4 linked regions of the Homo sapiens genome follow. The protein of the gene in region 4 interacts with the protein of the main gene of each other region in a pairwise test. Each region holds a gene or a part of one and is shown on either strand. Other genes may lie near its edges.

Region 1 (4,131 bases), on a different chromosome or scaffold from region 4:
GTCTATAGAATTATGTGTAGTTGTTCCGTACGATTTTATTTTCTTCATTTATTTATTTACAGTCTTATTTATGTTCTGTTTAATATATAGTTTGATTCTGGCCATTTTAAATATTTGACACAGAAGAGACTATATTGGAATATTTACAGCTTTATAAGTCTTTCATCAGATTAGCTGTTGACTTTTTGTAATACAAAAAGTTTCAGACAAGTATTAAAGAATAAAATCTGTCTCAGGCTGGTAGTTAGCAGTTGTGACCAAGATGCTTTTGGTTGTTGTATTTCACAAAATTTCCTCATTTCTAACATGAGAGATGAACTTATTTTAATATAATCCTTTTTCTACACTTTAAAAGTCAGCAATAGTGTTATGTATTTATAGGCAGCTTTTAATAATCTTGTCATATTTGTACTAACCCAAATGATTCACAGTGACAAAACATTTTAATAACTTGATCACAAAACCATATGGACAAATATGAATTTTAATATTATAAATACTATTTTTAAAAGGTAGAATTTATTCGCACAGGGTAAAAAGAATGTAATATTTAGTTCTCAAGTTTGAATTATCAGTATATTATTACAATTTTGTATATCAGAATCTTAAGTGTTACAGGTACAAAAAGAATATTGCTAGCCAAATGAACAAAGTTTAGCTAAATCTCTGTAGCATGCAAATCAAATAAATTAAAATTTTTTGCTATTGCTTTATCTATATTGTCTTAAATATCAAAAGCTCAGGACTGAACTTAATATTTAATCAGGTTAAATTCTGAACATGTTTCTGTTTTAATTTGTCTTGTTTGTAAACGTATGCAAATACATCACATAGATTAACTGGTTTCTGCACTTTCCATGTGTTTGTGGGTGGAAAAAAATTCAGTGGTTTTTTTTAAAAAAAAAAGCAAAAACAAAGCTACATATTGCCTAATACTCTATTTCAGTGTCGTTTATTGTTCAGTTTATTTCCCTGATTGGCACAAACACAAGAGTTTCCTTGAACCATGTACCAAGCAAATACAAAATATTTCATGAAGAAATCCCCAGGCTGGCAGTTTGTGATGAATAGTTCTTGTTGGAACTATATGTATTGCTGATAAAAAAGGACGAAGTATTTTCATTGAGCAAATAAAATGAAGGGCTCCAGAATATGTGCTCTGTGGTCGCTGCGCCTGGGCTGGCAGTGTGCTCCACAGAGAGGCAGCCGTCCCAGGAGGTTATCTACCCACACACCCCAGTCCTGCCCTGCCGTGCCCCCCACAGGCTGCTCAGTGCCTGGGAAGCCAGAAACGCTGCCCGTGAAATACAGAACACAGGATGCAGAAGCACGTTTGTGTGGCAGAGTCTACTTGAATCATCCAAAACCCAAGATCGCCCTCCTGCCTCTGACAGTATAGAAGGCGTGACTGAATGTGGCTGCCTTTTGAAAAAGGTTCCATAGAGACACTGAGGTCTCTGATTCAGAAGGAGATGATGTGTCTACACCTTTCACCTCTGAAGCTTCTAAAGAGCTAGTAATTATTTTATATAATAAGACGTCATGCATTTTAAATAAATATGCAACAAGACCTCAGGCTTATTATACTAGGTTATCTTAAACACCTGAAATAAGTAAATGATTTGCCAAATGATTCCGCTCCATATGAATAATACCTTCAAAGATACATAGAGATTAATGTTTTATTTACCACTTCTGTGCAATCGCTATTTTAAAATTGAGAAAACTCATCCACAGTAATGGGTGTCATTACTATTCAGTCTTGATTGATTTTGGTCTCAGACTAGAAGATAAAAATGGTTTACCAGTCTTGGAAAGAAACTATAGTTTAATAGCCACAGGAAAAGATGCATTTTCAAAAATCAAAAGCACAGTGAGATGACTAGAGCGGGACATCCTACCAAATCCAGTGTTGAGCAAGCGTCTCCTGAACAGCAGACGCTTGTCCTTTCTGGCTTAGTGTTTCAGGTTGGTGTTTCTCGTCTCCAGTTCTTGATGATGATCTTGTGTTTGTGCCACTGCGTAGTGGCCCGAAGCTAGGGGAGCGTGGCTGGAGCAGGCTGCACAGTGGAGCAGACACCCTCCTAGCAGAAGAGAAAGTCCAGCAAACCAGCCCAGAAACAGGGCCTCCCCAAACTCCCACCTGGGGACAAAGTCTGGGACGTTCTCATCCCAGAACTCCTGAACCGTCTTGTGGGCAACCCAAGAGACGGGAACCAGGGCTGTGACTCCCGAGGCCCAGGACAGAATTCCTCCCAGGATCAGCAGTCGCCTCTTGAGATCTCTCTGACTCTCTCCAATTCTCAAACAGTCCAGGCCAAACCCAGAGACCAGCAGGCCCAGAAATCCCAGCCCATTTGACAGAAACATTAAGATCCTGGAGACCCTGAGTTCAGCAGGCAAAGCCAGGAAGGAGTCAAAGTCCTTGCATTGCATCCCCACTTCCTCTTGGATGACACAGGTTTGCCAGAGTCCCATGGTCCAGTTTTCCATTTCATTTAAGTCCAGGTTGAGGTTCTTCCAGTGTGGCAGGTAGTTTGTAAGACAGGATAAAACCCATCCCAGCAAAGATAATGAAACTCCAGCTAGTTGAGCTACAGTTCTAAATACTAAAGCCATTATAATGTCCTGAGAGCTTTAGCCAAACTAACTCCTGCCCTTCGGTTGCTGTGAAAAGAAGTGTGACACTTGTGTTATAACTTATGAAACTCAGAAATATTTCTTCATTGTGTATATAGGAGGATTCTTGCCAGAGTTGCTATTGTTTGATTCCATGTTGAATGGGTTTCACAAAAGGATAGGGAAATAATGCCGCCAACCAGTAATGCCAAGGTGTGGCCAAGATTGTGTTTGTGTCCTGTGGGCTGGATTTGACAGAAAGCAGTTTGTCACTGAAATATAATTAAGTGATAATCTCCTTTCATTGTCAAGGTTAAAATGGCTTTCATGTTATTCCCAACCTTTCTAACAAAGAATTAAGTCTAAATGCAAAATGTTTAACTGATGGTTTTGGTTCAACTCCTCCTGCTTTGTGTTTCACTAACTGCACCTGTCAGATTTTCATCTCTTATAGTTCTCACATTTCAAATGTGCATGTTATGGTAATACTGAGTGTTATTTTTTAAAAATAGGTTTAAGAAAAGTATTTCTTAACCAAATAAATCAATCTTATCAGAAATCTCTCTACACCTTAACTCACTCCTGCGTTTCAGAAATTCCTCAGGCTACATATACCACATGGCATATGAAGCAATACTGAACTACAGATCTAGTTTATTTATCTGCATGCCTTTCTGTCAAATTCACGCTTGTGTGCATAAACACTTTTTTTTCTTATATATGCTTTCTGTGCCGAGGAAAGTTCAGCATTTGGACTCTGCAGGTTGGAGTCAGCATTTCTGTTTATTCACCACTAAAGTAGATATCCCCATGTTAGCGATTTTTCATTGAACAAAGGAAAGGTTTTATTCAAATGACCTGACAATATCAGGATATCAAGAAAAATGTCTTTGGAATTGTTTTTCTTTTTTTAATACGAAGGTTTTGAGGGAAAGGATGAGAGAAGAGATTGGCCACCATTTTAAATCTGAGAGGATCACAAGGTACTGAAAACTCTTCAGCCTCATAAAATCTTGCCGCACTGAGTGCCTGGTAATATCCTAAAAACAAACCACTTCTGTTCAAAGAAGAAAAAGGTCATTGTTGTGGAAATAACACTTTGAGGTTGGCTTAGCATGTGGTTTTGCTAAAGTAGAACACTTAAAATTTTCAGATTGTTAGTTTTTTTCTTTAGGAAACAGAAACTAAAGATCATTTCTGACTACCAACAGCAACAACAAAAAAAAGAAAAACAGAAAAAAGCTTTCTAATATGAAATTTACACATTAAAGCTTGAAACTGACTGTATTGGACAGCCACCACATTAATTTCAATAACCAGATCAATGAAGCTTGTTTCACTTCTACCTGTATAATGCTTACCATAATCATTTTCTTTTAGATAAAAGATTTTTCCTTCATTATTCAGATTTTAGAGGGAAGTGGGTCTACCTACTGTAGAAAAATAGTGAATGAGAAAACGTGAGCATCACAGGTTTAGCTACAAAACAAAGAGGTCTTTGTCATCACAGTT
Region 2 (2,755 bases), on a different chromosome or scaffold from region 4:
TGAAACTGAATTATCCACTTAGTCTTTGCAGTACCCAGGTGTACTTGAAATATCCTAGTTGGGGAAAAAAAAGAGAGAGAGAAATATCATAGTTGGAAAACTTTAGAGTATTTAATTATGAAAATAAATCTGTAAAGTACCTAAGACTTAGGTTATTTCCTTTTACTTCTAACAAAGCTATCGTAAAGTTTGTTAGGATTGACCTTTAGAGAACATTTTTATAATGCAATGTTATTTCTGTGCGTGTGTATGCAAGGGTATAAATAAGTATATATAAAATACTCTTAATATAGCCCGGGCTTTGGCACGTATCCATGAGGTTTATTCTCTTCATTCACAGTGGTTGATAAATTTCTATCTCAAGAACTTTCTTTTTTTTTGAGACGAAGTCTCACTATTTCGCCCAGGCTAGAGTGCAGTGGCACAATCTTGTCTCACTGCAACCTCCGCCTCCCAGGTTCAAGCGATTCTCCTGCCTCAGCCTCCAGAGTAGCTGGGACTAGAGGTGTGTGCCACCATGCCCAGCTAATTTTTATATTTTTGGTAGAGATAGGGGTCACCATGTTGGCCAGGCTGGTCTTGAACTCCTGACCTCATGATCTGCCCACCTCAGCCTCCCAAAGTGCTGGGATTACAGGTGTGAGCCACTGCGCCTGGCCCTAGAATAAAGTAGCTTTCTTATTAGTTACTTAAAAATATTTCTAAGATCAGTCTTCAAATGTTCTTAAAGCATATTTGTATATATATTTTTTATCTTTCAGCCTCAGGGATTTAGAGATACTGTTGTTACTTCTGCATGTTCATTGCAAACAGAAGGTTCCTTGAGCACCCGGAAACGGTCACGAGACCCAGAGGAAGAATTATAACCCAGAAACAAATCTCAAAGTGTACAAATTTATTGATGTTGTGAAATCAATGTGTACAAGTGGACTTGTTACCTTAAAGTATAAATAAACACACTATGGCATGAATGAATCCAGATCATATGAAGTGAATGGGAAAAATACCTAAATATGATTCTGTGAAAGTTTTTCTAAAGCAGTATTCTGCAATTATATTTTACCCTGTTTTCATTTTCAGTAACATTCAGTAGAGATGATTATTATATTTCACAAATGTGGAAAGCTGATCTCATGTGGCCAGTCTGAATTTACCATTCATACTGTTTTCACCCCTTTCTTTCCCAGTTGCCTATAAAATCTTAGGAAGAAACATATCATATTCTTATTGTGTTTTTTTTTTTTTTTTTTTTTTTGGAGATGGATTCTCGCTCTGTAGTCCAGGCTGGAGTGCAATGGCGCAATCTCTGCTCACTGCAACCTCCGCCTCCCAGGTTCAAGCGATTCATCTGCCTCAGCCTCCCGAGTAGCTGGGGTTACAGGCACCTGCCATCGTGCCTGGCTAATTTTTTGTATTTTTGTAGAGACAGAGTTTTACCATGTTGGCCAAGCTGGTCTTGAACTCCTGACCTCAGGTGATCTGCCTGCCCCTGCCTCCCAAAGTGCTGGGATTACAGTCGTGAGCCACTGTGCCCAGCCATGTTCTTTTTAAATGTAAATTTGATAATTCTTTAAAATTACCCGCTTTTATAATTATAAAAGAGAAGCCAGCACCATGAGTCAGCATATTATTCTGTTCAGTTTTATAGGTAAGATACAAATTTTAGGTGACCAAACTGATTTTAGTGACCTCAATCCTAAAATCTAAGCCATTTGTTTAGCTTTTAATGACATTTTATAATGTTAAAGGGAGGACTTTGGAGCTGTTATCTCATCTAGAGATTGTTTGGAACATATGTCTTCCAGAATAGGTTGATAAGCTCACAATCATTTATTGCTACGTTTTTGTTTTTGTTTTGAGACAAGGTCTCACTCCGTCACCCAGGCTGGAGTGCAGTGGCATGATCATAGCTCACTGCAGCCTCGACCTCCCGGGCTCAAGCAATCCTCTCACTTCAGCCTCCTGAGTAGCTGGGACTACAGGGAGGCACTACCATGCCCTGCTAATTTTTGGATTTTTTTGTAGAGACAAGGTCTCACTATGTTGCCCAGGCTGGTCTCAAACTCCTGGTCTCAAGCGATCCTCTTGCCTTGTCTTCCCAAAGTGCTGGGATTACAGATGTGAGCCACCACACCTGGCCTCATTTCTATATTTTGAAACACGGTATGATCCATTCTAGAATTCTAGTTGTTATGTTGACATTTTTCTTTGAATAATCTTAACTTTGCTTAAATAAATTAAAGATTTCAATTCTCGATGGTTTCAAAATCACCTAAAAATATTTTCACACTTGGCTCTTAGTACTTTTCAACTTACTCACAAAATTTACTTTGGTTCCCTGTGGGGGAAAAAATAATTAATTTTGGGACAGAATCTCGCTCTGTCACCCAGACTGCAGTGCAGTGGCACAATCTTGGCTCACCGCAACCTCTGCTTCCAGGGTTTAGGCGATTCTTGTGCCTCAGCCTCCCAAGTAGCTGGGATTACAGGCATGCACCACCGTGCCAAGCTAATAGTTTGTAATTTTAGTAGAGACAGGTTTCTCTATGTTGGCTAGGGTGGTCGCGAACTCCTGGGGCTCAAGTGACCCGCCCACCTCTGCCTCCCAAAGTGCTGGAATTAACAGGTGTGAGACTGCGCGCCCAGCCATATTTATATATTTATTTTTAAACTATTATTTTAGGTTCAGGGGTACGTGTGAAGGTTGGTTACGTAGGTAAACTCATGTCACGGGTTTATTGTACAGATTATTTCA
Region 3 (3,500 bases), on a different chromosome or scaffold from region 4:
GGTTCAAGTGATCCTCCCACCTCAGCCACCCGAGTAGCTGGGACCACTGTGATAAGGGAAATAAATAACAGGAAACCGCATCTGAAGTCACTCCAGGAGGGCTTCCTTGAGGAGGTGATGTCTAAGCTGAGATCTACAGGAGGTCGAGGACTTTATGACACAAAGAGGGAAGTGACCGGTGTTCCTGGCAGGGACACAGAATATACAAAGGCTTGGAGGTAGGAGAGATGATTTAAAGAGCTGCATTAAGGACAGGTGCGGCGACTCATGCCTGTAATCTCAGCACTTTGGGAGGTGGAGGCAGGCGAAACATTTGAGGCCAGGAGTTCGAGAGCAGCCTGGCTAACATGGTGAACTGCAACTCTACAAAACTGCATCTCTACAAAACATACAAAAAATAGCTAGATGTGGTGGTGCGTGTCTGTAATCCCAGCTACTCAGGAGGCTGAGACAGGAGAATCTCTTGAACCTGGGAGGCGGAGGTTGTGGTGAGCCGAGATTGCAACATTGCATTCCAGCCTGGGCAACAAGAGCCAAACTCCGTCTCAAAAAAAACAAAAAAAAAAAGGCTGTGATTGACAAGGGCTATGTTCTCATTAGTAAGCTACTCCCCTACCAGGTTCAGGCAGGGCAGCTCACCTGATACCACTCTTCCTCGTCCCCGCTGCTGCCACCTCCGCTGCTATGTCCGCCACTGCTGTTTGCCCCACCAGCCTGGAGCTCTGCCCGTTCCCACCGCAGCTGCTCCAGCAGGAGCACGTGAGCTGGACCCAGGGCTCGGAGGGCAGCCTCCCGCAGCTCTAGGCCCCGCTTCTCACGCCGCACCAGCTGCAGCCGAAGCATCAGGTCCGCCAGGGCCTCCTGTGGGACCAAGGAGAGGGGAGAGAATTTATGCTTCTACGGTCAACTGCAGGGAAACTGAGGCCCCAAGAGGCACCCACTGAGGACTATTCAGACAAAAACTGTGACTTTTGGCCAGGCGCAGTGGCTCATGCCTGTAATCCCAGCACTTTGGGAGGCCAAAGTGGGTGGATTACCTGAGGTCAGGAGTTCGAGACGAGCCTGGCCAACATGGTGAAAACCCGTCTCCATTAAAAATACAAAAATTAGCCAGGTGTGGTGGTGCACACCCGTAATCCCAGCTACTTGGGAGGCTGAGGCAGGAGAATCACTTGAACCCGGCAGTGGGGCAGAGGCTGCAGTGAGCCAAGATAGCGCCACAGCACTCCAGCCTGGGTGAGAGCAAGACTCCGTCTCAAAAAACAAACAAACAAACAAACAAACTAGGACCTTCACCATTCACCATGTTCTTGTGAGGTGGAAATATCTTCCTCCCATAAAAGCTACAGCTGTAGAAATGGCATTTCCTAGAGGGGCAAGTAGCTTACATAGGTCAAGTATTAGTTCTGTCAAAGCTTCTGGAGTTTCTCTAACTCCAGAACCTCAAGTTTTTCATGCCAAGCTACAAACCCAAGATTGTGTTCTTTGCTCCCATCTCTTCCCATAGGAAGGGCATTTTGGAGAGCCAGATTTGTAGTCTAATGAGAAACTGAACCCCAGAAAACAAACTCCTATTAATCCCTCAAAACCCCAGCTCCAATTCTCCCTTCACAATGCCTGCACTCAGCCCAGCAGAATTCTCCTTTGCTCCTTGGTCCCCCGACCTCAGTAAAGGATTTTGTCCCACCAAGAAAGACTGACACAGTGGCCACAGCCCATTTGTACCCTTGCGGCCACCAGGTCCTGCTGAATTTGTGTCTTCTCCAGTCGGGGAAGAGCTGGGCCAGCCTGGGTCCCCAGAATGGCCTGCACCATGGCTTCTGCACGGGGCACAGTGGGCATGGGTGCCAAGGTGGGGCCAGGCTCTGAGAGAATCTTCATTAGAGAACGGCGCTCCTGGAGACGCTGGACATAGCTTCGGAGCTGGAAAGCCACTTCCTGTGGGGTGGGCTTATCCACACTGCTGCCTTCAGGGCTATAGAAAACAGAAAAGGTGCCTATGTCAACACTGGCAGGCATAGGTGGGTTAAGTTCATGCCAATCCTGGTAGGGTCCATCACCTTCCATCTCACTGGCCACGATGGAATCTATGCCATCTTTGGTGGTCCCTGTCACACCAACATACCCCACTAGGCACCACCTTCCATCAAGACCACATGGTGGCCAGGTGCGGTGATGCATGCCTGTAACCCCAGCACTTTGGGAGGCTGAGGTGGGAGGATTGCTTGAAGCCAGAAGTTTGAGACCAGCATAGGCAACAGAGTGAGAATCCGTCTTTTTTTTTTTTTTTTTTGAGACGCAGTCTTGCTCTGTCGCCCAGGCTGGAGTGCAGTGGCATAACCTCGGCTCACTGCAAGCTCCACCTCTCGGGTTCACGCCATTCTCCTGTCTCAGCCTCCCAAGAAGGTAGGACTACAGGCGCTTGCCACCACGCCCGGCTAATTTTTTTTTTTTTTTTTGGATTTTTAGTAGAGACGAGGTTTCACCGTGTTAGCCAGGATGGTCTCGATCTCCTGACCTTGTGATCTGCCCACCTCGGCCTCCCAAAGTGCTGGGATTACAGGCGTGAGCCACCGCGCCTGGCCGAGAATCCGTCTTCATAAAAAATTAGCTGCGGCCGGGCGCAGTGCCTAACGCCTGTAATCCCAGCACTTTGGGAGGCCGAGGCAAGTGGATCACCTGAGGTCAGGAGTTCGAGACCAGCCTGACCAATATGGAGAAACCCCGTCTCTACTAAAAATTCAAAATTAGCCGGGTGTGGTAGTGGGAGCCTGTAATCCCAGCTACTCGGGAGGCTGAGGCAGGAGAATCCCTTGAACCCGGGAGGCAGAGGTTGCAGTGAGCCGAGATCGGACCATTGGACTCTAGCCTGGGCGACAAAAGTGAAACTCTGTCTCAAAAAAAAAAAAAAAAAAAAAAAAGACAGGGTCTCACTCTGTCACCCAGGCTGGAGTGCAGTGGTGCAATCTCAGCTCACTGCAGCCTCCACCTCCCAGACTCAAGGCATCCTCCCACCTCAGCCTCCCAAGTAGCTGGTACTACGCGGGCACACCACCATGCCCAGCTAATTTGTTTGTAGTTTTGGTAGAGAAGGACTTTCGCCATGTTACAAGGGCTGGTCTTGAACTACTGAGCTCAAACGATCTGCCTGCCTCGGCCTCCCAAAGTGCTGGGATTACAGGCTTGAGCCACTGTGCCCGGCTGTGGGTGCCAGTTTTAACCAGTAGGCATTGTCATTCATCTTCATGCCAACTGCAATGTCTGTCAACCACCATGCCAACTTTGTCAAGTAGCAACAGGCCAACTGCAGTTGAGCCTCATGTCAACCAACTACAGTGAGCTCCATACCGACCTTGCTGGACACAGCCACACCAAGCCCCGAAACGTGGTGAGCTCTGGGAGCCCCATCCCCCAGTCAAGACCCCACTCCTCAACCAGGCCAGTTCCCAGGGTTCCAGGGGGGTACCTTGGCTGTGGATTCTGCTGTGCTCCTGCATCCA
Region 4 (5,141 bases):
TTGTATGATTCTACTTATATGAGGTTCTAGAATAGGTAAATTTTTATAGACAGAAAATAAAACCGTTGATTATCAGAGGCCGGGGGAAGAAAGGGAACAGGAGTTATTGTTTAATGGGTATGCAATTTCTTCTTGGAATGATGAAAATGTTGTGAAAATGGTGATGGTTGCCGAACTGTGAATATACTTAATGCCACTGAACTATGCACTTAAAAATGGTTAAAATGGCATATTTTAAATGTACATTTTACCACAATAAAAAAATAAGCAAGCTTTTGTGGTAATTAAACTATGGAATTCTTGATTCTCTACCCTTGTTACCCTTGTGAAGCACCTTCTCTTTGCTGCCCATATATGTGCAATATATGGTGCAATATCTATTGATGAGAACAGCAAAAATACATCAAATGGGTAGACTCCCTTGTTTAAATTTATTTTGATTCATTTTTATTTTTATTTTTTTTTAATAAATACAGACAGGGTCTCACTATGTTGCCCAGGCTGGTCCTGAACTCTTGGACTCAAGCAATCCTCCTGCCTCAGCCTCCCAAAGCGCTGGGATTACAGGCATAAGCCACTGTGCTCGGCCTATTTTGATTTCAATGGTGTTATTCCTGCCAGAAAGAAATCCAAGATAAGCAATAAACAGATTATTTTGGAATTGAGAAAGCTGGAGGGTAAAAACAAAAGCCAAGGCAGCATTTGAAGAGGTACATTGAAAGTTATCAAATAGTTTTATAGGAGATCTTGACATACACATTTTAAAAAGTAAAGCAGCTATTTTACTTAAAAGGAAGCTTACATCCATAATAGTTACAGGTATGTCCCGAATTTTATGAGGTTCCACATAAGAATTTTGACAATTCAAGGTAAGTCTTGAAGCCAGTTCACTCTGACCCAAACTTTCTAGCTGCAGGAAGAAACACAGGTAAAGTTTTTGAAATAATTTTGTTTTTCACATTTACATTAAATCCACAGACAACATTTGTGCTTATAAAGGTGGTATCATCTGTGGTGGGGCCAGAAAAGTCATCAGTGAGGAACCACAACTTAGGTGAGAGACCATGAACTGGGCTTCTCAGGAGGTTGTGGCATTTTTCTATTCTGGAAACCTGGGTACAAACCAATGAAACCCGGCCTTCTACAGCCCTCAGCCTACACTGCCTACTCCAGCCAGGTGCCCATGGGCAGCAAGCCAATTCCTACTGCTCAAAGGTGACAGATATATGTTTTTGTTTTTTTTTTTTTTTTAAGATAAACCTTTAAGGGATCTTAAAAGAGATTTGAGAAATCATCTAGCCCAGCAGTTCCTAAATGCAAGCCAACAGACCTGGTTCATCAGATTTACCTGGTGGGTAGAGGAAAAGTGTGAAGTAAAAATAGATTCCCAGATCCCATGCCCAGGGATTCCAGATGGATGATCTGCTGTGAGGCCTTACAATCTGTATTTTTGAAAGCTCCCCTAAGTGATTTTGATGAATAGCTGGTGGGAAGCACTGATGTAGGCAAGCCCTTACCAGCAATAATATCTGCTCAGATGTATTACTCTGCTTAGCAAATACCTCTTACACATACTTGTGAGACAGATCTATCTTCTGGAACCAAGTAGATGTGAAAATTCCCAATACAATGTGTCCCCAACCCAATGTCATGATCCTTACCCTGTCTACCATGAAATCAATGGCATCAGCCATCATAGGGTCCACCGGGCCAGATGAAAAATTTCCAAGAACTATTTTTTTGAGCATAAATGCAGGCATCAGCCAAAAGCTGTAAAACACAAAGACCTTATAATTTAAACTTCCAAGACTACACATGGCAAATATTCATTCAACATTAAAGCTTTGTATTAGCTTGGGATCTAGAAATAAAAAGTCCTAATCCCCTCCTCCAAAGAGCTCAGCATCTAGTTTTTACACACACTTTCCCAAGCTTCCAAAGAGTTATGGCTTCATATAATTAAACTTTTATTTGAGGATTTAGGATAATTATAAGAGATATTTCAAAATACCTTTACTGAGATAGACATTCTGATGAGTCCAAGATTGTTTTTTTTCTCTAATTGGCCCTATTTCCAAGGATTAAACTATTTCTTTTGGAAAACTGAATATTAAGAGAAGTATTCTTTCCTTCTGGTTGATATTATGTTTTTATCGATTGATATTTCAAAACAGATTTCAAAATACCAATATGAAAGCTATTGCACCTCCCCAAATTTGCTACTATTAGATTCAACTTGGCTAATTCAAGGCAAATTGATATTTATAGATTTATTTTTTAAATTTATTATTGTTATTATTTTTTGAGACAGAGTCTCAGTCAGTTACCCATGCTGGAAGTACAGTGGCATGATCTCGGCTGGGTGCAACCTCTGCCTCCCGGGCTCAAGCAATTCTCATGCCTCAGCCTTTCGAGTAGCTGCGACTACAGGCACATGCCACCACGCCCGGCTAACTTCTGTATTTTTAGTAAAGATGAGCTTTTGCAATGTTGGCCAGACTGGTGGTGAACTCCTGGCCTCAAGTGATCCACCCACCTCAGCCTCCCACAGTGCTGGGATCACAGGCGTGAGCCACTCCTGGCCTCTTTTTATTTTTTAATTAAAAAATTTAAAAAAAAACTTTTAGAGACAGGGTCTCACTCTGTTGCCCAGGCTGAAGTGCAGTATTGTGATCATAGCTCACTGTAGCCTCAAACTCCTATCAAGTGATCCTTCTACCTTGGCCTCCCGAGTAGCTGGGACTACGGGCTCGTACCACCAGGCCTGACTAATTTTTTAAAAATTTACTGAGCTGGGGGAGCCGGGGCCAGGCACGGTGGCTCATGCCTGTAATCCCAGCACTTTGGGAGGCCAAGGTGGGCAGATCACGAGGTCAGGAGATTGAGACCATCCTGGCTAACACGGTGAAACCCCGTCTCCACTAAAAATACTAAAAATTAGCCGGGCTTGGTGGCGGGCGCCTGTAGTCCCAGCTACTCGGGAGGCTGAGGCAGGAGAATGGCGTGAACCCAGGAGATGGAGCTTGCAGTGAGCCAAGATCGTGCCATGGCACTCCAGCCTGGGCGACAGAGCCAGACTCCGTCTCCAAAAAAAAAAATTTACTGAGCCAGGCGCAATGGCTCATGCCTGTAATCCAGAACTTTGGGAGGCCAAGGTGGGTGATCACAAGGTCAGGAGTTCAAGACCAGCCTGGCCAAGATGGTGAAACCCCGTCTCTACTAAAAATACAAAAATTAGCCAGGGGCGGTGGCCAGCGCCTGTAATCCCAGCTACTTGGGAGGCTGAGGCAGGAGAATCACTTGAACCTGGGGGGCAGAGGCTGCAGTGAGAACGTGCCACTGCACTCCAGCCTGGGCAACAGAGCGAGACTCCCATCTCAAAAAAGAAAATTTTTTTTCTGTAGAGACAGGATCTTGCTCTGTTGCCCAGGCTGGTCTAGAACTCCTGGACTCAAGCAATGCTCTTACCTCTGCCTCCCAAAGTGCTGGGATTACAGGTGTGAGCCACTGTGACTGGTCAGATCTTTACGGATTTCTATATATGATCTTTAGTTTATATTTATTCCATTAATTTCAACTGTTAAGAGCCATCATGGAGGGCAAACACTAATTTCTGTAAACCTATGACGAAAATTACTTAGATGAGGTGCAAACTACCTTCTGATGCTTATTACCACTGGGACAGCCTTGCTGGAAGTTGAGCTTCCCTCAAAAGGACCACTAGGTCACCTTCCAGTTAACTTTCTAAGTTCTCTCCCAGCCCCATCACTTTCTTATCTTTTGAAGGTGATGAGGTCTAAGTACGCTCTGTAAGGGGTGGACCCTGTTGACTTTGCTCACTCCTGGATCCTCAGTGTGTGGCACACAGTAAGCACTCAGATATTTGACAATAAGCAGCTGATGTGCCAGAGCACAAACTGAATGGGGGCTGTCTTGGCATTCTAACAATTAGAACAGCAATAAAAATCACCAAAAATAATGAGCATTATTTAGTGCATTATCTGGACGGGAAGGATTTGTAAAGTAGCTAATGTATACAAGAAATTGTTGCATGAATGCTGAGTAATTACTAAGATAACATCAGAAAAACTAAAAAATAGCTGGGCACAGTGGCTCATGCCTGTAATCCCAGCACTTTGGGAGGCTGAGGCGGGCGGATCACGAGGTCAGGAGATCGAGACCATACTGGTGAACACGGTGAAACCCCGTCTCTACTAAAAACATAAAAAATTAGCCAGGCATGGTGGCGGGCGCCTGTAGTCCCAGCTATTCGGGAGGCTGAGGCAGGAGAATGGCGTGAACCTGGGAGGCAGAGCTTGCAGTGAGCTGAGATCGTGCCACTGCACTCCAGCCTGGGCGACAGAGCGAGACTCCATCTCAAAAACAAACAAACAAAAAAACAAACAACAACAAAAAAAACTAAAAAATATCAGAGTGCAATTTTAAGTAGATGTGAAAACGATATTTCCCTATACATTATTTGAAAACACTGATCATACAGATGTGTTTACTCACTGGGCTTTTTTTTTGAAGTAGGGTCTTGCTCTGTCACCCAGCCTGGAGTACAGAGGCACAGTTGTGGCTCACTGCAGCCTTGAACTCTTGGGCTCAAGCGATCCTCCTGCCTCAGCCTCCTGAGTAGCTAGGACTGCAGGTGCATACCATGATACCTGGCTAATTTATTATTATTGTTATTTGTAGAGATGGGGTCTCACTATGTTGCTCAGGCTGGTTTCAAACTCTTGGCCTGAAGTGATCCTCCTGTCTTGGCCTCCCAAAGTGTTGGGAGTACGGCATGAGCCATCACACCTGGCCACTGGGCTTTATTTTAAGGCTAGAGCCTCGCCTTGCCAGCAATGAAAGAAGTGCACAGTAAGCCAGCTGTATGGCATCATAGATACCTACCAATTACTTAAAATGATAAAATCAATGAAAGGATGGCTCCTAGGAAACAAGTACCCCACTGGCTGCACCCAAAGCATTTCCACCATTTTGTTTTTGGTTTGTTTTTTTTTTGAGATGGAGTTTCGCTCCTGTTGCCTAGGCTGGAGTGCAATGGCGTGATCTCGGCTCACCACAACCTCCGCATCCTGGGTTCAAGTGATTCTCCTGCCTCAGCCTCCTGAGTAGCTGGGATTATA

What was found. Proteins that work in one complex are often made in the same cells at the same time.
Region 1: the proteins of SPG21 (region 4) and CLDN22 interact in binary tests that used the Homo sapiens proteins (3 or more experiments, as listed by UniProt).
Region 2: the proteins of SPG21 (region 4) and RAD51C interact in binary tests that used the Homo sapiens proteins (3 or more experiments, as listed by UniProt).
Region 3: the proteins of SPG21 (region 4) and USHBP1 interact in binary tests that used the Homo sapiens proteins (3 or more experiments, as listed by UniProt).

Annotation. Positions count from the first base shown.
Region 1 is NC_000004.12:183,317,600-183,321,730, forward strand, and holds CLDN22 (claudin-22), read right to left. Parts: upstream 2,678-4,131; 5' UTR 2,620-2,677; coding exon 1,957-2,619; 3' UTR 501-1,956; downstream 1-500. UniProt on the Homo sapiens protein: Plays a major role in tight junction-specific obliteration of the intercellular space, through calcium-independent cell-adhesion activity.
Region 2 is NC_000017.11:58,733,357-58,736,111, forward strand, and holds the end of RAD51C (DNA repair protein RAD51 homolog 3), read left to right. Parts: intron 1-761; coding exon 762-866; 3' UTR 867-2,255; downstream 2,256-2,755. UniProt on the Homo sapiens protein: Essential for the homologous recombination (HR) pathway of DNA repair. Involved in the homologous recombination repair (HRR) pathway of double-stranded DNA breaks arising during DNA replication or induced by DNA-damaging agents.
Region 3 is NC_000019.10:17,254,746-17,258,245, forward strand, and holds part of USHBP1 (harmonin-binding protein USHBP1), read right to left. Parts: coding exon 3,467-3,500; intron 1,976-3,466; coding exon 1,726-1,975; intron 862-1,725; coding exon 640-861; intron 1-639.
Region 4 is NC_000015.10:64,968,453-64,973,593, forward strand, and holds part of SPG21 (maspardin), read right to left. Parts: intron 1,771-5,141; coding exon 1,662-1,770; intron 911-1,661; coding exon 803-910; intron 1-802. UniProt on the Homo sapiens protein: May play a role as a negative regulatory factor in CD4-dependent T-cell activation.